Regions from separate parts of the Homo sapiens genome. Here region 2 is linked to region 1. The links come from fine-mapping of genetic effects on gene expression. A gene starts in region 1. The other region holds a variant in brackets. All regions are shown on one strand. Distances are from middle to middle.

Region 1 (10,882 bases):
TTCTTCCTTGCTTACCAAATGGTTGATATGCTCAAGTTTAGGGAGGCTCCTAGGTAATAAGCTTGATCAGTTAAACCAGTCTGGGTAATTCTATTTCTCTTACCTGTACAGTCCTGTGCCCTGTAACATTTTGGTAAACAATAGACCACATATGCGACAGTGGTGTCATAAAAATATAATACAGCTGAAAAATTCCCATCGTCTAGTGACTTCTTGGTGACCTTGACCCTGTGTAGGCCTAGGCTAATGTGTGTAGGTGTTTTAGTTTTTAACAAAAAAGTCTGGCCGAGCATGGTGCCTCATGCCTACAATCCCAGCACTTTGGTACATGTCTGTGGTCCCAGCTACTTGGGAGGCTGAGGTGGGAGGACTGCTTGAGCCTGGTAGATTGAGGCTGCAGTGAGCTGTGATCAGGCCACTGCATTCCAGCCTGCAATCCCAGCACTTTGGGAGGCTGAGGCGGGAAGACTGCTTGAGCCCAGAAGTTCGAGACCAGCCTGGGCAACATAGGGAGACACTGTTTCTACAGAAAATTTAAAAATTAGCCAGGTATGGTGGTGCATGTCTGTGATCCCAGCTGCTTGGGAGGCTGAGGTGAGAGGATTGCTTGAGTCTGGGAAGTTGAGGCTGCAGTGAGCCGTGATCATGCCACTGGACTCCAGCCTGGGCAAGAGAGTCTTTACCTTGTCTTTCAAAATAAAATAAAGAATAAAAAGTACAAAAAGAAAATTCCTTTTTCCACTTCTGGACATTAGAGGAAGAAGCTGCCATCTAGACTGGTGCAGTGGCTCACGCCTATAATCCTAACACTTTGGGAGGCCAAGGTGGGTGGATCATGTGAGGTCAGGAGTTCAAGACCAGCCTGGCCAACATGGTGAAATCCCGTCTCTACTAAAAATACAAAAATTAGCCAGGTGGTAGTGGCGTGCACCTGTAATCCTAGCTACTTGGGAGGCTGAAGCAGGAGAATCGCTTGAGCCTGGGGAGGCAGAGGTTGTGGTGAGCCGATATCGCATCACTGCACTCCAGTCTGGGCAACAGAGTGAGACCCTGTCTCAAAAAAAAAAAAAAAAGAAAAACAAAAAGAAGTTGCAATCTAGCAACCATGAAAGAAAAGCCAAGAGGAGACAAGCTAGGACCATATTGTCGAGCTGCTGCATTAACCAACCCTTCTTCTTGTAGGTGATAACAAAGGAATTGGTTATTATCTCTATATTTACAGATGACGAAACCAAGGCACTGAGACAATTAAGTAACTTGTCTAAGGTCAGAGTGGTAGAACCAGGATTCAAATCCAGGCAGCCTGGCTCCAGTCTTTAATCTCTATACCTCTCCAAAGCAAGCTAACTGCTACAAGACCGCTCCCAACAAGTACAAGGACATTATGAAGTCTTTCTGGTAATGCAAAAGGTGCTTTTGATCATTTACAGGTTTCAGTAGGTGACTGCACTGTACATATATTGCTCAGTGTTGCAGTGGTACATATATATTATGGGTTTTTGTCCCCATAATTGCACATCCAAAAAGACTCCAAAAAGGTATTACCAAAAACAGGTCGAGTTAAGTCCGAGACATTCTGAAAAAGCGATCCACTCCTATAACTCTTAAATCCACCAGGACTTAATTTTGACACACAGTAAGGGGTAAAGATGGAAAATAACTTTTCCCCAAAGAGTAATCACATACACCAAGACTGTTTTTGACTAATCCAGAAAAGGAAGTTAATGAATGTACTCTTTGGGTCATGCATCCCATGCAATTTTAGGATAAAACAGCAAAATAGGAAAAACATGTTTCTTGCTCTTATGATGCTTCCTGGTGTAGTGGAACAGAAATGACAATGTAGCAATTCCATGTGAGATGGTCCTTTGAAAGAGCTAGGTACAGTGACAGCTATGGACTCTTACCTCTAAGCTGTGGTGGAAGATGTTTGATGGACAGTACCTCTTGCACAACATACTGATTCACCCCTCCACTTTTCAACAACTCCTCTGGGGATAATGGCAGATGGAACTCATACATTTGGGGAGCCATTCTACTCCTACAGGCTCACAGGGCTAGAAACCAAACAGTGAAAAAGTCAGGGTCTATATTCAAGACCTGTCTTCGTATCTGGTTCTATTACTTTCCCATCCCCAACATATATAATGGCTTTTAGTTTTATAGCAAGCTAGTAACATCATCTGGTTTTGTTAGTTCCCCACCCCCAACATATATAATGGTTTTTAGTTTTATAGCAAGCTAGTAACATTATCTTACGGGATCTGAGATTGACCCTGGACTAGAAACTAATTCTAGTAGTGACTTTGGCACTTGGTCTTGACACTTAAACCTCTGGGCTTTATCTGTAAAAACAGGGTTACTAAACTCTGATTACTTCACAAAGTTGCTCTGATGATCAAACAAATCAAGCAGTACGAAGGTGTTTAAAGAACTATAAAGTGGCATATTAATGTGCAAAGTACTATTATTTCCATTTTTATGTGCAAAGCTCCTTAAGTATAGAGAGAATGGTCTGATCTCGTCTGAGGCCAAAACAGTGCCCCAGCATGGGCTAGTGGGCTTCCTGCACCAGAATGGTAAGAGCATTAACAATGATGATTTATTTATCCTGTGCCAAGTCTGTTAGGCTGTTTGCATGTATCATATCTGATCTAAGTATCCTAACCTCAATCCCATGAGGTGCATAATAATACAAATGAGTTTACAGAGCGGAAATTGAAGTAAGAAAGTTAAGCGATTTGCTTAACATCTTCCGTTGCGGATCTGTTAAGCGATTTGCTTAACATCTTCCGTTGCGGATCTGTTAAGCGATTTGCTTAACAACTTCCGTTGCGGATCTGTCAGACTTACAGTTTCTCACACATCGCGCCCCAGGGATATACTTACTAGGCCTATTGTATTTTGCCCAAGACTGGGTCACACTGCCATGTACTCGACTTTCCTACTCTTTTACGACCTGCAACACCACATCTTACCTGGGGATCTCACCCGCGGCTCTGATTCCGGCAGTCAGGCTGAAATGAAAAGGAAAAAACACGCGTGCACAACACGCACCAATTAGCAAGGCAGTTTTCAAGTCGGCGGAGAATCCGGCCAATCCCCGGCAGGCAGAGGCAAAGGGCCGCCTCTGAGTCTGGCAACGCGCGGGCAAAGCCACAAATACCGAGTTCAAATCTCAACGGCTGCAGGACGGCCAATCGCGACGCCCGCCGGAGCGGCCGGCCAATCACAGCGCCGCCCGGGGGCGGGCCAAGGCTCCGGCTCCGGCCCCCGCTCCCACCCCCGGCCCGCCTGCGAATCCCTCCTTGGCCGCAAGGTCCCCCTTTGCCCAGTCGGCGGGGAGGAGGCCGTATTTCTGCTGGCCAGAGACGTCGCGTCCCTGGCTGGGCATTCAGTCACCCCCAGGAAAGGAGGCAAGTCCACGCTGGGAGTTAGAAGGCATCGCCTCTAATCCAGGTTTCGCCATCTCCTCTGCTAAGTGACGTCCAGCAAGTCACTTCACTTTCAGGACCTCAAATCTCCTCCCCAGTAGTAAAATAGGGGTAATAAAAACAGCTACAGCGGAAGACTGTTGTGAGGCACAGAGAAAGGGCTTGGTCATTGGAAGCGGGTTCCAGGTTCTCAACCTTCATTTCCTTCACGGTTGAAGGACGCCAAAGAAAGCGGAAAGGGTGAATTTTCTTGAAATCTCAGTTTTGGGGAATCTTAGCGACGAGTCGCGGACCTCAGCTTGTCCGGCGCTCCAAAACTTCCGGCAGGCGGACCGGAAGCACTGAGGCGGGAAGGGTGGTAGAGGCCCCTCCTGCCGGAACCCGGGGGGCGGGGCTCGTGGCTGTTGCGGATGGGGCGTAGGTGGGCGGTGCGCCCACAGCTGCCTGGGTAAGGCCCAAGATGGCTGTCTTCGCCTTAGTACTCGTGTGAAGTTGGCGGGGACGGTTCCTGTCATCTTCTTGGGCTTATTTGGTGTGCTGTTGAAGGGGGGAGACTAGAGAAATGGCAGGGAACCTCTTATCCGGGGCAGGTAGGCGCCTGTGGGACTGGGTGCCTCTGGCGTGCAGAAGCTTCTCTCTTGGTAAGTGGCTGATGTAGGCACCCCGATAACTGCTTCGTAGTATAATAGGCGGCTCAGATTAATTCCCTCCCTTCCCCATCCCCAGGTGTGCCTAGATTGATCGGTATAAGGCTCACTCTCCCGCCCCCCAAAGTGGTTGATCGTTGGAACGAGAAAAGGGCCATGTTCGGAGTGTATGACAACATCGGGATCCTGGGTAAGACTTGACCTTCGACGTGGTACACAATTTCAGAATGGCAATTAGGCTGTAACGACTATCTTTTCCTCCTGTGTAGAGAGTGGTACTGTGCTCAATAGTAAGAGCAAACACTTATGTAGCTGTTTACATTGTGTTTGGCACTGTTCTGAGTCCCCTCGTATAATTTTTACTTCATAAGTAAAAATAAACAGTTTTTCCAAAGTTAATAAATGGCAGCATCAGAATTTTAACCCCAAGCAGTCTGGCTCCAGAGTCTGTGCTATTGTTCTGTACTGTAATGTTCCTTGTCTATAGGTGCTGCTCAGCAAGATGCAACCGTGGGTTGAAAGCTTAGCTGGTGTAGGATGAGTTCTCTTGTCTTGGATCTAATGTGTTCTCTCACATTACACAGGAAACTTTGAAAAGCACCCCAAAGAACTGATCAGGGGGCCCATATGGCTTCGAGGTTGGAAAGGGAATGAATTGCAACGTTGTATCCGAAAGAGGAAAATGGTTGGAAGTAGAATGTTCGCTGATGACCTGCACAACCTTAATAAACGCATCCGCTATCTCTACAAACACTTTAACCGACATGGGAAGTTTCGATAGAAGAGAAAGCTGAGAACTTCGGAAAAGGCTCATCTGTCACCCTGGAGAAGGGAAACTGTACTTTTCCCTGTGAGGAAACGGCTTTGTATTTTCTCTGTAATAAAATGGGGCTTCTTTGGAATTTGATAGCCACATACTTTTGTTTTCCTCTAGATGCTGCCTCTACTCATGTAGACTATGAAGTCTTGACTCATCCTAGATCTTAGGATCTTAGGTTTGGGCTTCACACCACTTGCCTTTTACAGTCTAGCTATACCTAATTCCTTTAAAAAGAAAAGTTGGTGAGAATGTTATTGGCGCTTTTTGACATAATGCTGTTATGTTAATAGTGTTTCTAAAGAGCCTTCCACACTGAAATGAAATATAAGAGAAAAATGGAGTCATACTTCTGTACTACTCTCATAAAATATTTATTAGGCATATTCTCTGAGTAGGAACTATAGGAAAAACAAAAAAGTGTGAGGTGTCCTTTCCATTTAAATATGAAACATTAAGTACCATATGAATGGTAGAGATGGCGGATACTAAGCCTGACTGGTCATCAGTTTTCTGGGTGTTTTAACATTTCAAAAGCCTAGTCCTAACCCCTAAAGATTGATCAGTAGAGCTGAGTTGAGTCTAGGGCATCTATGTGTTTTGTTCTTTTTTAATAATAATTTTTAAGAATTACAGCTGGGCAGAATGGTGCCCACATGTAATCCCAGCATTTTGGGAGGCTGAGGTGGGAGGATTGCTTGGAGACAGGAATTTGAGACTGGTCTGGGCGACATGGTGAAACTCCGTCTCTACTAAAAATAAAGTGGCTGGGTGCGGTGGCTCCTGCCTGTAATCCCAGCACCTTGGGAGGCGGAGGGGGGCGGACCACGAGCTCAGGAGATCGAGACTATCCTGGCTAACACAGCCCTGTCTCTACTGAAAATACAAAAACAAACAAACAAAAAAATTAGCCAGGAGTGGTGGCGGACACCTGTAGTCCCAGCTACTCAGGTGTCTGAGGCAGGAGAATCACTTGAACCTGGGAGGTGGAGCTTGCAGTGAGCCGAGATCGTGCCACTGCACTCCAGCCTGAGCAACAGAGCAAGACTCTGTCTCAAAAAAAAAAAAAAAACAACTTAGCTGGGCATGGTTCTGCATGCCTGTAGTTCCAGCTACTCATGGTTCTGCGTGCCTGCAGTCCCAGCTACACAAGAGGCTGAGGTGGGAAGATCACCTGAGCCCAGGAGTTTGAGGCTGCAGTGAGCTGAGATCATGCCACTGCATTCCAGCCTGAGCAACTGGGGTGAGACTGTCTCAAAAAAAAAAAAAAAAAAAAAGTGAAGTTAGGGCTGGGTGCAGTGGCTCACACCTGTAAGCCCAACACTTTGGGAGGCCAAGGCATGAGGATTGCTTGAAGCCAGGAGTTCAAGACCAGCCTGGGCAACATAGCAAGACCCCATCTCTATATTTTAAAAAACAAAAACTCCATAAAAGTGAAGTTAGATTAATAAATACTTGTTGCGGGGCATGGTGGTTGGAGCACACTTATAATCCCAGCTACTCTGCAGGCTGAGGTGGGAGGATCCTTTGAAACCAGGAGTTGGAGGCCAGCCTTAGGAACATAGCAAGACCCCATCTTCAATAAAAATAAAAAGCACTTGTTAAATTACAAGTGGGTTTTGGATAAATGGATTGATGGGTATATATGAAAACATGATCCTGGGTCTTACGGAAATGTTTAGGAGAGTCAGTTTTCAGAGGGGTGGCTGGAAGGAGCTATGCATAAGAATGGAGAAGTTGATGTGAAATGTGAGTGGCTGTATACTTTACATGATTTGGTGGTGCTAGAGTGGAGAAAATAAAATATTTGGGACTCTGCTAAGTGCAAGGTGCCCTGAAGAAGATATCTACATATCCTGGTAGAGTATCTGATTGTTAGGGAAGAGGAAATTAATAGGTCAATAGGCATTTATAGAATATTTCCTGATTCAAAGATACAAAAGGTTTTGTTTTCAAGGACAGAACAATCTTGTTTGTGGTATGAAACAGTATATAACGTTTTCTTTGAATAAATATTGAATTATTATGTGCAAAGATATTTGGAGGAACAAAAATCACCAAGGTAGGGTTGGTTCCTACCTCTAAGTAGTCTTCATTCTACTTAAAAGATGTCCGGTGGCTCACACCTGTAATCCCAGCACTTTGGAAGGCCTAGGTGGGCGGATCACGAGGTCAGGAGATCAAGACCATCCTGGCCAACATGGTGAAACCTCGTCTGTACTAAAAATACAAAAAAATTAGCCAGGTATAGTGGTGTGTGCCTGTAATCCCAGCTACTCGGGAGGCTGAGGCAGGAGAATCGCTTGAATCCGGGAGACAGAGAGGTTGCAGTGAGCTGAGATTGCACCATGCACTTCAGCCTGGGCAACAGAGGGAGACTCTGTCTTTAAAAAAAGAAAAAAAAAAAAAAAAAGACGTCTGAAGGATGTAAAGTTACAAGATGGTGGACCAATGTGATACTCTGCAGAATGTGCAAATGGTCCACATTTTTTAGATTACATCATGACAGAGAACAGAATTAACATAGCCCTGATGAAAGACCATGACTGTATACTGTTGTTCATCCCCTCCGTGGTGGACTGCTTCTGACCAACATGCTTTAGAAAAGAATGTTGGTTGGGCATGCTGGCTCAGGCCTGTAATCCCAGCACTTTGGGGGGCCAAGGTGGGCGGATCACCTGAGGTCAGGAGTTCGAGACCAGCCTGACCAACATGGAGAAACCCTGACTACTAAAAATACAAAATTAGCTGGGCCTGGTGGCACATGCCTGTAATCCCACCTACTCAGGAGGCTGAGGCAGGAGAATCGCTTGAACTCGGGAGGTGGAGGTTGCAGTGAGCCAAGATCGTGCCATTGTACTCCAGCCTGGGCACCAAGAGCGAAACTCTGTCTCAAAGGAAAAAAACAAAAAAGAAAAGGATGTTCGCCAGGTGCAGTGGCTCACACCTGTAATCCCAACACTTTGGGAGGTTGAGGCGAGAGGATCAGCTGAGCCCAGGAATTCGAGATCAGCCTGGGCAACATGGTGAAATGCTGTCTCCACAAAAAAAAAAAAAAAAAATTAGCCAGGCGTTGGTGGCATGTGCCTGTAGTCCCAGCTGCTGTGGAGGCTGGGTGGAAGGATTGCTTGAGCCTTGGGGGTCGAGGCTGCAGTGAGCTGAGCTTGTGACACTGCACTTCAGCCTAGGCAACAAAGCAAGACCCTGTCTCAAAAGAAAAAGAAAAAGAAAAAAGAAAAACAATGTATTTGCTAAATCAGTGGTCACAAACCACAAATGTGAGGCTATGTTAATCTGCTCCAATAAAGATATCCCATCCAGCAGACAATTAGCACTGGGATTCCCACTTGGTTAAATTGGCAGCAGCTTCATCCAGTTTATACAGGGGTAAGACTGGAAAAAAGAAAAAAAGAAGAGATGTGTATGTAAACAAAATGTAAATTTAAATATGATAATGAAAGCGAGTCCCATGACAGGTTTTTTTTTTCTTTTTTTTTTTTGCTGAGGGGGATGATCAGAAAAGGTATTTGTTGAAAAGATGGCATTAGAATGAGCTCTTGAGGCCAGGAGCAGTGGCTCATGCTTGTAATCCCAGCACTTTGGGAGGCCGAGGTGAGCAGATCACTTGAGGTCAGGAGTTCAAGACCAGCTTGGCCAAAGTGGTGAAACCCCATCTCTACTAAAAAAATACAAAAAACAAATTAGCTGGGCATGATGGCACATGCCTGTAATTCCAGCTACTCAGGAGGCTGAGGGGGGAGGATGGCTTGAGCCCAGCAGGTGGAGGTGGCAGTGAGCTGAGATCAGGCCACTACATTCTAGCCTGGGCAACATAGCAAGATCCTGCCTTTAAAAAAAAAAAAAAGGAAAAAAGAATTCCACCCAGTGCAAGAGGCAGATGAAGAAGCATAGTTATGAAATCCAGTATGTCATGACATTTAAAGTTTGTTAATAGCTATGTGTATAGGTGTGGAGAGGAAGAGACACCTATCTTTTCCTGAGGAAGCAGGAATGGGGACGAGAAGGGCTTTAGAGAAGAGGTGACCACTGAGTTGTCTTAAGGGAGTGGAGGCTAGCAGTTTTTCCAGGCAGTTGAAGCAGAAATAAAGGCCTAGAGTCAAGAAACAGCATGGTGTGCATGAGAAAGCTATGAGTGGTATTTACTGGTGGAGCTACTGCTTGTGGTAAAAGACAGGGAAAGAGATGGGAAGCAAGAGTCAGATCCTGAAGATTGTAATGATTATTAAAATTTAGCCTTTAGGGGGCCGGGCGCGGTGGCTCACGCCTGTAATCCCAGCACTTTGGGAGGCTGAGACAGGCAGATCACGAGGTCAGGAGATCGAGACCATCCTGGCTAACACGGTGAAACCCCATCTGTACTAAAAATACAAAAAATTAGCCTGGCATGGTGGCGGGCACCTGTAGTCCCAGCTACTTGGGAGGCTGAGGCGCGAGAATGGCGTGAACCCAGGAGGCGGAGTTTGCAGTGAGCTGAGATCGCACCACCGCACTCCAGCCTGGGCGACAGAGTGAGACTCCATCTCAAAAAAAAAAATTTAGCCTTTAGTAAAATGGTGCAGCCACTTTGGAAAAGTGGCAGTTCCACAAAAAGTTAAGTGTAGAGTTACTGCATGACCCAGTAATTCCACTCCTAGGTTTATACCCAAGAAAACTGAAAACATATGTCCACACAAACACTTGTACATAAATCTCCTTAGCAACATTATTCATAATAGCTAAAAAGAAGAAACAATCCAAATATCCGTCAGCTGGTGAATGGATACACAAAATGTGGTCTATCCATACAATAGAATATGGAATATTATTATTATTATTATTTGAGACAGAGTCTCGCTCTGTCGCCCAGGCTGGAGTGCAGTGGCCCGATCTCGGCTCACTGCGAGCTCCGCCTCCCAGGTTCACACCATTCTCCTGCCTTAGCCTCCTGAATAGCTGGGACTACAGGCACCTGCCACCACGCCCGGCTAATTTTTTGCATTTTTGGTACAGACGGGGTTTCACCGTGTTAGCCAGGGTGGTCTCGATCTCCTGACCTCGTGATCCACCTACCTTGCCCTCCCAAAGTGCTGGGATTACAGGCGTGAACCACCACACCCAACCAGAATATGGAATATTATTTTTTTAACTTTCTTTTTAACACTCCTTCCTGCACACTGACAATGGAATATTATTAAGCTGTAAAATGAGGTACTGGCCAGCGTAGTGGCTCACACCTGTAATCCCAACACTTTTGGAGGCCAAGCGGGAGGGGAGGATCACTTGAGGCCAGGAGTTTGAGACCAGCCTGGGCAACATAGTGAGACCCTGCCTCTAAAAAATAAAAAGAAAAAAATAGCTGGGTAGGTTGGTGAGTACCTGTAGTTCTGGTGAGTGCCTGTCGTCTTAGCTACTTGAGAGGCTGAGGTGGGAGGATGGCTTGGGCCCAGGAGTTCAAGGCTGCAGTGAACTATGATCACATCAGTGCACTCCAGCCTGGGAAACAGAGCAAGAGCCTATCTCTCTCTCTAAAAAAAAAAAAAAAAAAAATAGGGCCAGCCACGGTGGCTCACGCATGTAATCCCTGCCAGCAACAAGAACAAAACTCTGTCTCAAAAAAAAAAAAAAAAAACAACGGGTGGTGGCTCACACCTGTAATCACAGCACTTTGGGAGGCAGAGGTGAGCGGATCACTTGAGGTCAGGAGATCGAGATCAGCCTGGCCAACATGGTGAAAGCCCATCTCTCCTAAAAATACAAAAATTAGCTGGGCATGGTGGCGGGCACCTGTAATCCCCAGTTACTTGGGAGGCTGAGGCAGGAGAATCGCTTGAACCCAGGAAGCGGAGGTTGCAGTGAGCCGAGATTGCGCCATTGCACTCCAGCCTGGGTGACAAGAGTGAGACTCCATCTCAAAAACAACAAAACAACAACAACAACAAACCCAAAAATTAGCCGGGCGTGGTGGCAGGCGCCTGTAATCCCAG
Region 2 (11,304 bases), 20 kb after region 1:
CCGTACTCAGCTGGGGCCCCGGGGGCTGCCATGGGGCCGGTGGGGGCGACCCAGCCGCTCGCTTGCCTTGGGACTCGCGGGTGAAGCCGCCGCAGAGCTGGGGGCTCTCCAGATAGGAATCTTAAAAAATACAGAAGGCCAGGCATGGTGGTTCACGCCTGTAATCCCAGCACTTTGGGAGGCCAAGGCAGTCGAATCACGAGGTCAAGAGATCCAGACTATCCTGGCCAACACGGTGAAACCCCGTCTCTACTAAAAATACAAAAAATTAGCTGGGCGTGGTGGCGCACGCCTGTAGTCCCAGCTACTTGGTCGGCTGAGGCAGGAGAATCGCTTGAACCTGGGAGGCAGAGGTTGCAGTGAGCCGAGATTGCATGACTGCACTCCAGCCTGGCGACAGAGCAAGACTCTGTCTCAAAAAAAAAAAAAAAAAAATCAGATGCGCATATTTGTAGGGGTCTATTTCTGCATTCTCTCATCGGTGCCATCGATCTATGTGTCTGTCCTCCCACCAATACCACACTGTCTTGATTACTGCAACTATATAGTAGTAAGCATGAGATAGTTATTCCTCCTATTTTATTCTTCTTTGTTCTTCTATAGATAAAATCTATTTATGAGTTGGCCTGAGAGTAAAGACTATTTAAACACGAAAAACTAAGTGAAAGCCAGTAACCAGGGAAGTTGCTGAGTCCCAAAGACTATTTTGCTCTGAGGGTATTTGCTATAAAGTTTAATATGAGCGTAGCAGCCTCACAGGCTACCACTGTGGCACAGGAAATAAAGCCCAGGGCTTACCCAAGGTTGGAAATCTAATAGAAAGTCCTTACCATAAAGTCAGAACCCCAAAGGACTATATCCTCATCTAAGAATGAATTACGAATATACTAGAACCCAAACTGCCCCAGAGCACTCCGTGGAATGTTGTTTGTCTGGAACCCAGGTGCCTGCTGGAGTTCTTTTATTTTTTTCTTTTAAGTATTTGCAGAGAATGTATAACCACAGGCTGTGGTGTTTCTGCCTGAACTCTTTGTTGATCCTAAAAAGAAAATGGCAAGAATTTAAAGTGGTTTTGGATTGACAGTACCACCAAGAACCCAGCAGAAGCAATGCAGATCCTTTCTGGATGAACTCATCTTTAATCTAGGCCTCGGGGAATTTCCACAGATACAGTTCCAAGAAAAATAAATTGTGGTCAAAAATTCCAAACAAATAAGGAACAAGGCACCAAGAACAAGAACCAGCAGAGATGGAGACAGGAAATAAGAAAGATAATTAGAAAATTAAGCCAAATAGTCCAATATCTAATTAATAGTCCGATGTCTAAAAAGAGAAAACAGGATATGTGAGGGAGAGGGAGAAAAAAGGGTGTGTGTGAGATTGATTTTAAAAGAAATACAAGACTCGCGCCTGTAATCCCGCACTTTGGGAGGCTGAGGCTGGCAGATCATCTGAGGTCAGGAGTTCGAGATCAGCCTGGCCAATATGGTGAAACCCCGTCTCTACTAAAAATACAAAAATTAGCCAGGCATGGTGGCAGGCGCCCGTAGTACCAGCTACTCAGAAGGCCTCGCGAGGTGCCGGGATTGCAGACCAAGTCTTGTTCACTCAGTGCTCAATGTTGCCCAGGCTGGAGTGCAGTGGCATGATCTCGGCTAGCTACAACCTCCACCTCCCAGCCGCCTGCCTTGGCCTCCCAAAGTGCCGAGATTGCAGCCTCTGCCCAGCCGCCACCCCGTCTGGGAAGTGAGGAGCGTCTCCGCCTGGCCGCCCATCGTCTGGGATGTGAGGAGCCCCTCTGCCCGGCTGCCCAGTCTGGGAAGTGAGGAGCACCTCTTCCCGGCCGCCATCCCGTCTAGGAAGTGAGGAGCGTCTCTGCCCGGCCGCCCATCGTCTGAGATTTGGGGAGCGCCTCTGCCTGGCCGTGACCCCGTCTAGGAGGTGAGGAGCGTCTCTGCCTGGCTGCCCCGTCTGAGAAGTGAGGAGCCCCTCCGCCCGGCAGCTGCCCCATCTGAGAAGTGAGGAGCCCCTCCGCCCGGCAGCCACCCTGTCTGAGAAGTGAGGAGCGTCTCCGCCTGGCCGCCCATCATCTGGGATGTGAGGAGCCCCTCTGCCCGGCTGCCCAGTCTGGGAAGTGAGGAGCACCTCTTCCCGGCCGCCATCCCGTCTAGGAAGTGAGGAGCGTCTCTGCCCGGCCGCCCATCGTCTGAGATGTGGGGAGCGCCTCTGCCCGCCCGTGACCCCGTCTAGGAGGTGAGGAGCGTCTCTGCCTGGCAGCCACCCCGTCCGGGAGGGAGGTGGGGGGTCAGCCCCCGCCCGGCCAGCCGCCCCGTCCGGGAGGGAGGTGGGGGTCGCCTCTGCCCGGCCACCCCTTCTGGGAAGTGAGGAGCCCCTCTACCCGGCCACCACCCCGTCTGGGAGGTGTACCCAACAACTCATTGAGAACGGGCCATTATGACGATGGCGGTTTTGTGGAATAGAAAAGGGGGAAAGGTGGGGAAAAGATAGAGAAATCAGATTGTTGCTGTGTCTGTGTAGAAAGAAGTAGACTTGGGAGACTTCATTTTGTTCTGTACTGGGAGGGGTTCTTCTGCCTTGGGATGCTGTTGAGCTGTGACCTTGCCCCCAGCCCTGTGCTCTCTGCGGCCTGTGCTGTGTCCACTCAGGGTTAAATGGATTAAGGGCGGTGCAAGATGTGCTTTGTTAAACAGATGCTTGAAGGCAGCATGCTCCTTAAGAGTCATCACCACTTCCTAATCTCAAGTACCCAGGGACACAAACACTGCGGAAGGCCGCAGGGTCCTCTGCCTAGGAAAACCAGAGACCTTTGTTCACTTGTTTATCTGCTGACCTTCCCTCCACTATTGTCCTATGACCCTGCCAAATTCCCCTCTGCGAGAAACACCCAAGAATGATCAATAAAAAAAAAAAGAAAATGGCCAAAAGACATGAACCAACATTTCATCAAATAGGATAATATATACAAGGCAAACACTTTAAAAGATATTTGATATCATTAGCCATCAGTGAAATAAGAATTAAAACCACAATGATAGCACTGAACACATATTAGAATGGTTAAAATAAGAAAAATACAGCTGGGCATGATGCCTATAGTCCTAGCTACTTGGGAAGCTGAAGTGGGAGAATTGCTTGAGCTCAGGAGTTTAAGACCAGCCTGGGCAACACAGGCAAAGGCAGTTTCTTATAAAACTAGAGATGCAATTACCTTACTGCCCAAGCATTGCACTCAGGCATTTATCCCAGAGAAATGAGAATTTATGTTCACACAAAACCTGTATGAAAGTTCACAGCAACTTTATTTGTAATAGCCCAGTGCTGAAATCACTCCAAATGTCCTTCAGCAGGTAAATGGTTAAATGTACCACGGAATATTAATCAGTGGTGAAAACTAATGATACACACAATAACTTGGATGGTTGAAAAAGTAATGATACACACAATAACTTGGATGAATGAAAAAAGCCAATCTTGAAAGGTTACGTGATATAGAAAAAAGCATGACTACATTTACATAAGGCTCTTGAAATAAAGTTACAGAGATGGAGAACAAATTAGTGTTGCTAAGGTTTAGGGATGGCGGTGGGTTGGAATATAAAGGGGTAGCACATGGGAGCCTTGCAGTAATGTGAAAATGCTGTATCCTAACTGTGGTTGTGGTTACACAAATCTACACATGATACAATTGCATAAAACCACTCAAACACACACGAACACAAAAAGAAGTGTTTGGTGGTACATGCCAGTTTGGAAAATCGGTGAAATTTGAATAAACTCTGGATTTTGCTAATGATAATTTCCTGGTTTTAATATTTTAATAATTTTAAACTGTATTTATACAAGATGTTACTGTTGGGGGAACTGGGTAAAGGGGTTTAGGGGAACCTCCCTGTATTGTATTTTTTTTTTTTGGCCACCTTATATGAATCTATAATTACTTTAAAATAAAAAGTTTAAGGCCGGGCGCGGTGGCTCACGCCTGTAATCCCAGCACTTTGGGAAGCCGAGGCGGGTGGATCATGAGGTCAGGAGATCGAGACCATCCTGGCTAACACTGTGAAACCCTGTCTCTACTAAAAATACAAAAAATTAGCCGGGCGTGGTGGCGGGTGCCTGTAGTCCCAGCTACTCAGGAGGCTGAGGCAGGAGAATGGCGTGAACCCAGGAGGTGGGGCTTGCAGTGAACCGAGATAGCGCCACTGCACTCCAGCGTGGGCGACAGAGGGAGACTCCGTCTCAAAAAAAAAAAAAAAAAGTTTAAAAAATGCCACCCCCTCAACCCCGTTTTTTTGAGACAGGGTCTCACTCTGTTGCCCAGGTTGGAGTGCAATGGTGTGATCATGGCTCACTGCTTTCTTGACCTCCTCAGGCTCAGGTAATCCTCCCACCTCAGCCTCCCAAGTAGTTGGAACTACAGGTGTGTGCCACAATACCCAGCTATATTTTTTTGTATCTATTTCTTGTAGAGACAGGATTTCACCATGTTGTCCAGGCTAGTCTTGAACTCCTGGGCTCAAGTGATCCTCCTGCTTTGGCCTCCCAAAATGCTGGGATTATAGGCGTGAGTCACCATTCAATGATTTTAAGTTTTTTTTCAGGGGAAAGTTGGTGGGAATAAATAGGCATTCATGCTGCCAGAAATATTTCCTCCCATTCTTTTTTCTTTTCTTTTTCTTTCTTTCTTTCTTTTTTTTTTTTTTTTTGAGACAGTCTCATTCTGTTGCCCAGGTTGGAGTGCAGTGGCAAGATCTCGGCTTACTGCAGCCTCCGCCTCCCGGGTTCAAGTGATCCTCCTGCCTCAGTCTCCCGAGTAGCTGGGACTACAGGCGTCCATGCCCAGCTAATTTTTGTATTTTTAGTAGAGACGGGATTTTGCTGCGTTAGCCAGGTTGGTCTTGAACTCCTGGCTTCAAGTGATCCGCCCTCCTTGGCCTCCCACATTGCTGGGATTACAGGTGTGAGTTACTGCGCCTGGCCCTTTTTCTTTTCTTTTGGAGATAGGGTCTCATTTTGTCACCCAGGTGGGAGTGCAGTGGCGTGATCTCGGCTCACTGCAACCGGAACATCTGGGCTCAAGCTGTCCTTCCGCCTCAGCCCCCCAAATAGCTGGGACTACGGGAGTGAGCCACCACGCCCGGCCCCATTCTTTTTGTCTTTGGGGGCTTATAATTTTTTGCAAATTTTCCCAAATTGTCATTTTTCCCCCTAACTTGCCATTTTGATGTGGTTTCAGGAGGAGAATGGGATAAACACATATGATGAATGCATTATGTTTCCAAGTGCAATTGTTTCCTTAAGAAGACTTGTGACATTTGGATAGATAACTTTGGTGGACTTTTTAGAGAATAGATGTAAAGGATGGCAAGACTGGAAGCAGAATGATGTATCATTGATCTTAGGAGGCACTTGGGTTTTTTGTGTGTGCTTGTTTGTTTGTTTTTTTGCATTTCAATATCTTCTAATTGGGATGTTTCACTTTAGCTATTAGTCAGACAGCAGTCAAACTATATTTGTCATACCTGCTCATGAGCATCAAAGCTTGCCAAATGGGTGTCTGAGGCTTGGAAGAAAACTCTAGAGCCTGGAGAGGAACACTCTTAGGAAATGCTGCATCACCAAAGCCCTTATGAAATGCACAGAGGACTACATTGCGTGGAAATTAGTGGACATCCAAGACTGAGTCAAAAAAGTGAATCATTAACAATCAGTCTCTGTGAAGTTTTAGGGATAGTTACCATGTTATTGTTTTCTATTTCCCTTTTTATGCATGCACAAGAGTGAAATATAGAAATCGGTATGTATATAAACCCATATTTTCAATACATGTAAAACAAAAATGCTAAGTGGTAAGGAAAGCATTTGTCACAGATAATTTGCAACCTTTTTTCTTTTTTTTTTTGAAACAGGGTCTTGCTCTGTTGCCCAGGCTGGAGTGCAGTGGCGTGATCTCGGCTCACTGCAACCGTCGGCTCCCGGCTTCAAGCGATTCTCTTATCTCAGCCTCACGAGTAGCTGGGATTACAGGCGCCCGCCACCATGCCTGGCTGTTTTGTATTTTTAGTAGAGACAGAGGTTTCGCCATGTTGGCCAGGCTGGTCTCGAACTCCTGATCTCAGGTAATCTGCCTGACTCGGCCTCCCAAAGTGCTGGGATTACAGGTGTGAGCCACTGCGCCCGGCCTTGTAACCTTTTTTCTTAGCGGGACATAAAATAATGGTGAATTTTCCAACTGATGGAGTCCAGGAAAGGGATAATAGTGAGCAGAGGGGAGATAATCACTGGAATGCCAAGAAGGAAAAATCAACTCGATTTGGCAGATTACTGGGGGAGAGGTAAAGGTGAAGGGGAGGAAATCTAGGATGGTTTCCACGTTTCTGGTCTGGGCAACTGAGTCGATGTGGTAACCTCGACTGGAGCAGGTTTGGGAGGGAGTTCAATTTAGGAAGGCTATGTTGAAAGAAACGAATGAACGAAAGCTTCGTGCTTGCTTTGGTGGGACGGAACCCCGCATCCGGTATCTGGCACCAGGAGCTTGTGGCTGTGTCTCGAGGCTCCTGCACCCTCTCAGAGCGTTAGT[T/C]AGAGGCGGGGCGGTGGTGCGGAGCGAGGGCCAGAGCAGGGCACCAGGGCTGGGCGCGCACCAGGAAGCCGCCGCCTCCAGCTGAATGCGCGAGTCCCGGCGCGGGGTGGGGCAGGGGCGGGCACGGTCTTCAGTAACTGCCTAGCGATTGGTTGGGAGGCACCACAAATGCCTAACAAACTGCTGAAGCGCCCTCCGAAGGGACAGACCTCATCTCCACCCCGCCCCGTCCCTCCGCCAGACTGGAGCGCAAACTATGGTCGCATTGATCACTGAAGGATCCTCACAGCAACCGCTCCTTTCCGGAGTCGGATGAGAGGAGAGTTGTGACTGGCAATTGGCAGGGGCGGGGCGGGCTAGGCCTGTAGCGCTGGGCGACCGTCCTGGGCATGGATTGGGCCGCGGGGTTGTCACCGTTATCCGGGAGGCGTGGTCAGCACTAATAAAGGCGGAGGCCGGCGCGGCAGCTGCAGTAAGTTCCAGCGCAGCTAGACCGCGGGGTAGTCGGCGCGAGGCGGAGCTTGGCAGTTCCGTCCACTTCAGCCGCAGCGTCCCTCACCGGGTGTCTCGCCGCAGCCTCCGGAGAGGAACAGACCCTCACTCTCTCTGTCAGAAAAATGTGAGTTGACTCTGGTGTGGGGGCTCGGCACCTCCTTGACAACTCTCGCCCCAAGCTCCCGATTCTGCGGGACGGAAAATGGCGCAATGCAGCAGCTGCAGCAACGCGGGGAACTACCACCGCGCGCCGCTTCCGGACCGGGCCACCCCCAGGGAGGGGGGCCAGCACCCCATTCTCGCACCAGCCACAGCTAGCACCCCACGGGCGGGGCAGGGGCGCAGGGGTCCCACAATCATTGCACCCTCTCCTCTCGTCTGAGTGGCGCCTCATTCTGGTTTTGGTATAGTGGAGACTCGGAGAGGGCGGGGGCTGGGGGTGGTGGATGGAGACAACTGGGCAGGGGACTCGAAAGGTATTTCTGTCATCTGGCTAAATCACTACTCAGCGCCTCAGGAAAGACAGTCATGGGTGCAACTGCCAGTTGGTAACTTATGTTGCCCTACAATCTCTGGATTTGTTTACCCCTCACCCAAAGTGTGATGTCTAGCCCCCCTCATGGCAGTGAGCAAAGCTGCAGAAACTTATCTGCCAGTTCTCTGGCACCAGGTGAGCAGCTCAGAAAGACTCAAGGGGTAGTGGGATAGTGGCCTGTCATCCCAAGCGGCTGTTCATACCAAGGCCATTCGTATAGGAGATGTTTTTCTATCACCGAGTCTTACCAAATAGTTGGAGGAGAAATAGGGAGAGCTGAGCTTTCCCCCTTTCCTCCAACACACACAGTTTAGTCTCCAGCAGTCTTCAACATCACCCCCTTCGCATGATCTTGAGGGAAAACTACGGCTAAACAAACGAAGTACTTCTCTGTCAAGACCTCAATATGTCTAATACAGATTTTTCTTTCTGATTACTACCCTGGCCTGGTCCTAGATGTATTTATGTTGCTTCTCTAAGTGACAAAAAAGGGAAAGATTTACTTGTGTTACATAAGGGTTGTAATTATCCCTAGATATTTTACTGTTGAGTGTTTCCAACTCCCAACAAGTAGTAAGTGAAATTGGCCTTGCAAATACTTCATAGCCATTTCACTTTTTCTTTTTGATTTCTATGGTTTTAACCAGATATGAGTGTTCTATGCATTTTGGGCAAGCCGTAGAATTCCAGTTGTTTTCATTTTGGGGAGGGGGCTTCCAGATAGTATCTACGTGGGATGAACAGAAGGCAACAGAAAAATCGTGGTGGCTAGCGGGGCATCACGAGGTCTCTGACCTTAATCTTGTCATTGGTGCTACCATCCTGGACTGCTTCCAACACTGGCTGCTACCTACTCATTGAATTTTCTGCCTTAAGTCGAGAGCTAGATTGCTTAGCTAGCTCAGTGGCAGGACAAGAGTCTTGTGGCTCCCATGACTTTGTGTCTATCTTTGCTTTACCTCCTTTGCACCTTAGAGGGAAATGGAAAAGTGATTCTTCAAATGGGGAATGAGTCAGGTGTAATCTGCTACCATAGCCTCTCTGAGGAGTTATTCTCTATCTTTTTAGACTAAAAGAAATTCACTTAATCAAGGAGAATGAGCTTCTGGGTATTAGTTCTATTGTAATTAGTCAAATAATTTCCTTTTAGGTGACTTTGTGGTTTCATTTTTGTTGCATTTACTCTTGGACTGCTCCTGTGAAGTATGTTTGGTGAGATTCTGCTTCTGTTTGAGGAGTTCTTACTGTAATTTCTATTCTCCATCAAATTTGAGAGATCTCCCCCCTGCCTGTGGGTGCTTCCTTGGCCGAGAACATCTCATGACTTAGGTTATACTTCTGGGAATTCTTTAGGAGGTGAGTTTAGCCTCCATGTTTTGGGACATGGAGAGGAGTTTGTCTTGAAGACCACACACTAACTTTGAGTGGTACAGAATGAGAGAACATTCTCTGTGTGTATAGTACAGTAAACCAAGATCTCTCTTTGGGATGTAAGTAACCAAGGGAGTCATCTGAGACTGTCAAATCCAGAAAAGGAAGGGACAGAATGTCTATAATGCATGCACATTGAGGACAATTTCTAGCATTTTTGCTTCCTGTCTATGCTCTTGGAACAGTTTCCATAACTAATGTAATTGCTTTGGGCCCCAGATTCTATCTAAGTGAAACCCCCATTTTCTCTGCCAAAAACAAAGCAAACAAACAGTCCTGACTCACTCCACCTACATAGACTTTGCCTTTGGTGATTTTCCAAGCTGCCCTTATGGCAGCCCTGATTTCCTCATCTTGTGTGAAGCATAACCAATAACTGGGCATATAAACCAATAACCATAACCAATAACTTGAATATAAAAAGGGGTGAGCTGACAGACATTACAGTGTACAGCCTCCCTCCTGGCTCCCTTCACGGACTGGCATTGAGTGTCTGTGGCTTTTCCAGGCGCACGGTGCAAGCTACCAGTGGATCTACCATTCTGGGGTCTGGAGAATGGTGACCTTTTTCTCATAGCTCCACTAGGCAGTGTTCCAGTGGGGACTCTGTGTGGGGGCTCCAACCCCACATGTCCCTTCTGTACTACACTAGCAGAGGTTCTCCATGAGGGCCCTGCCCTTGCAGCAAACTTTTGCCTGGACATCCAGGCGTTTCCATACATCTTCTGAAGTCTAGACGGAGGTTCCCGAACCTCAGTTCTTGCCTTCTGTGCATCTGCAGGCTCAACACCATGTGGAAGCTGCCAAGGCTTGGGGCTTCCACCCTCTGAAGCCACGGCCCGAGCCCTGCATTGGCCCCTCTCAGCCACAGTGGGAGCGGCTGGGACACAGGGCACTAAGTCCCTAGGCTGCACACAGCATGGGGACCCTGGGCCTGGCCCACAAAATAACTTTTTCCTCCTGGGCCTCCAGGCCTGTGATGGGAGGGGCTGCTATGAAGGCTTCTGACATGGCCTGGAGACATTTTCCCCATGGTCTTAGGGGCTAACACTAGGTTCCTTGCTACTTATGCAAATTTCTGCAGCTGCCTTGAATTTCTTCTCAAAAAAATGGTTTTTTTCTTTAGTACTGCGTCTTTTCTTCTGCCAGATACCCTAAATTATCTCTCTCAAGTTCAAAGTTCCACAAATTTCTAGGGCAGGGGCAAAATGCTGCCAGTCTTTTTGCCAAAACATAACAAGAGTCACCTTTGCTTCAGTTCCCAACAAGTTCCTCATCTCCATCTGAGACCACCTCAGCCTGGACCTTATTGTTCATATCACTAACAGCATTTTTGTCAAAGCCATTCAACAAGTCTCTAGGAGGTTCCAAACTTTCCCGCATTTTCCTGTCTTCTTCTGAGCCCTCCAAACTGTTCCATCCTCTCCCTGTTAACCCAGTTCCAAAGTCGCTTCCACATTTTTGGGTATCTTTTCAGCAACACCCCACTCTACTGGTACCAATTTACTGTATTAGTCTGTTTTCATGCTGCTGATAAAGACATACCCAAGACTGGGAAGAAAAAGAGGTTTAATTGGACTTACAGTTCCACATGGCTGGGAAGGCCTCAGAATCATGGCGGCAGGTGAAAGGCACTTCTTACATGGCAGCAGCAAGAGAAAATGTGGAAGAAGCAAAAGCAGAAACCACTGATAAACCCATCAGATCTCATGAGACTTCGTCACTATCACCAGAATAGCACCGGAAAGATGGGCCCCATGATTCAGTTACCTCCCCTGAGTCCCTCCCACAACATGTGGGAATTCTGGGTGATACAATTGAAGTTGAGATTTGGGTGGGGACACAGCCAAACCATATCAGCGGGGAAATGCCATTTAGGACAAGGCTAGGCCATATGTCCCTGTAGCCATCATGGCAGAGGACTTGTTTGAGTTGAGTCAAAGGATAGCCCCAGATGAGATGTCTTGATGCCATCCTGGATGTCCCTGAACCCCATCCAAATGTTGTTGCAGAGTCTTTCATCTTTTACTTCTTGCCTCTATGGTTTGTCTCCCTACTTCAGATTGCCAAGGAGCAAGAATCCATTCTAGTTTTGTATAGCCTAATCATAATTGTTTAAGTGGTTTGGGGTGAGGATGCATGTGAGTCCTTTCTTTTTGTCTGTTTTTTTAGAGATGGGGTCTCGCTATGATGCCCAGGCTGGCCTCGAACTCCTGGGCTCAAGCGCTCCTCCCACTTCAGCCTC

What was found. PIP is the estimated chance that this variant, and not a neighbour inherited with it, causes the effect.
Region 2: its variant is fine-mapped to the expression of MRPL51 in regulatory T cells (Bossini-Castillo 2019, PIP 0.91).

What each region holds. Positions count from the first base shown.
Region 1 is chr12:6,486,251-6,497,132 of GRCh38, reverse strand. It overlaps MRPL51 (mitochondrial ribosomal protein L51), which reads left to right and starts at 3,871. Exons shown (of 3, transcript NM_016497.4): 1 at 3,871-4,075; 2 at 4,161-4,271; 3 at 4,666-5,247. The coding sequence starts at 3,997. The coding sequence ends at 4,862. NCAPD2 (non-SMC condensin I complex subunit D2) reads right to left here and starts at 3,031. Exons shown (of 32, transcript NM_014865.4): 1 at 2,979-3,031; 2 at 1,908-2,057. The coding sequence starts at 2,034. RefSeq lists a silencer at 3,074-3,403 and enhancers at 2,839-3,436, 3,604-3,653.
Region 2 is chr12:6,466,443-6,477,746 of GRCh38, reverse strand. It overlaps VAMP1 (vesicle associated membrane protein 1), which reads left to right and starts at 7,070. Exons shown (of 5, transcript NM_014231.5): 1 at 7,070-7,217. The coding sequence starts at 7,216. It also overlaps a transcript of TAPBPL not described here and the pseudogene PKP2P1. RefSeq lists silencers at 6,519-6,778, 6,989-7,038, 7,539-7,588. The variant T/C (reference allele first, on the strand shown) is at 6,599.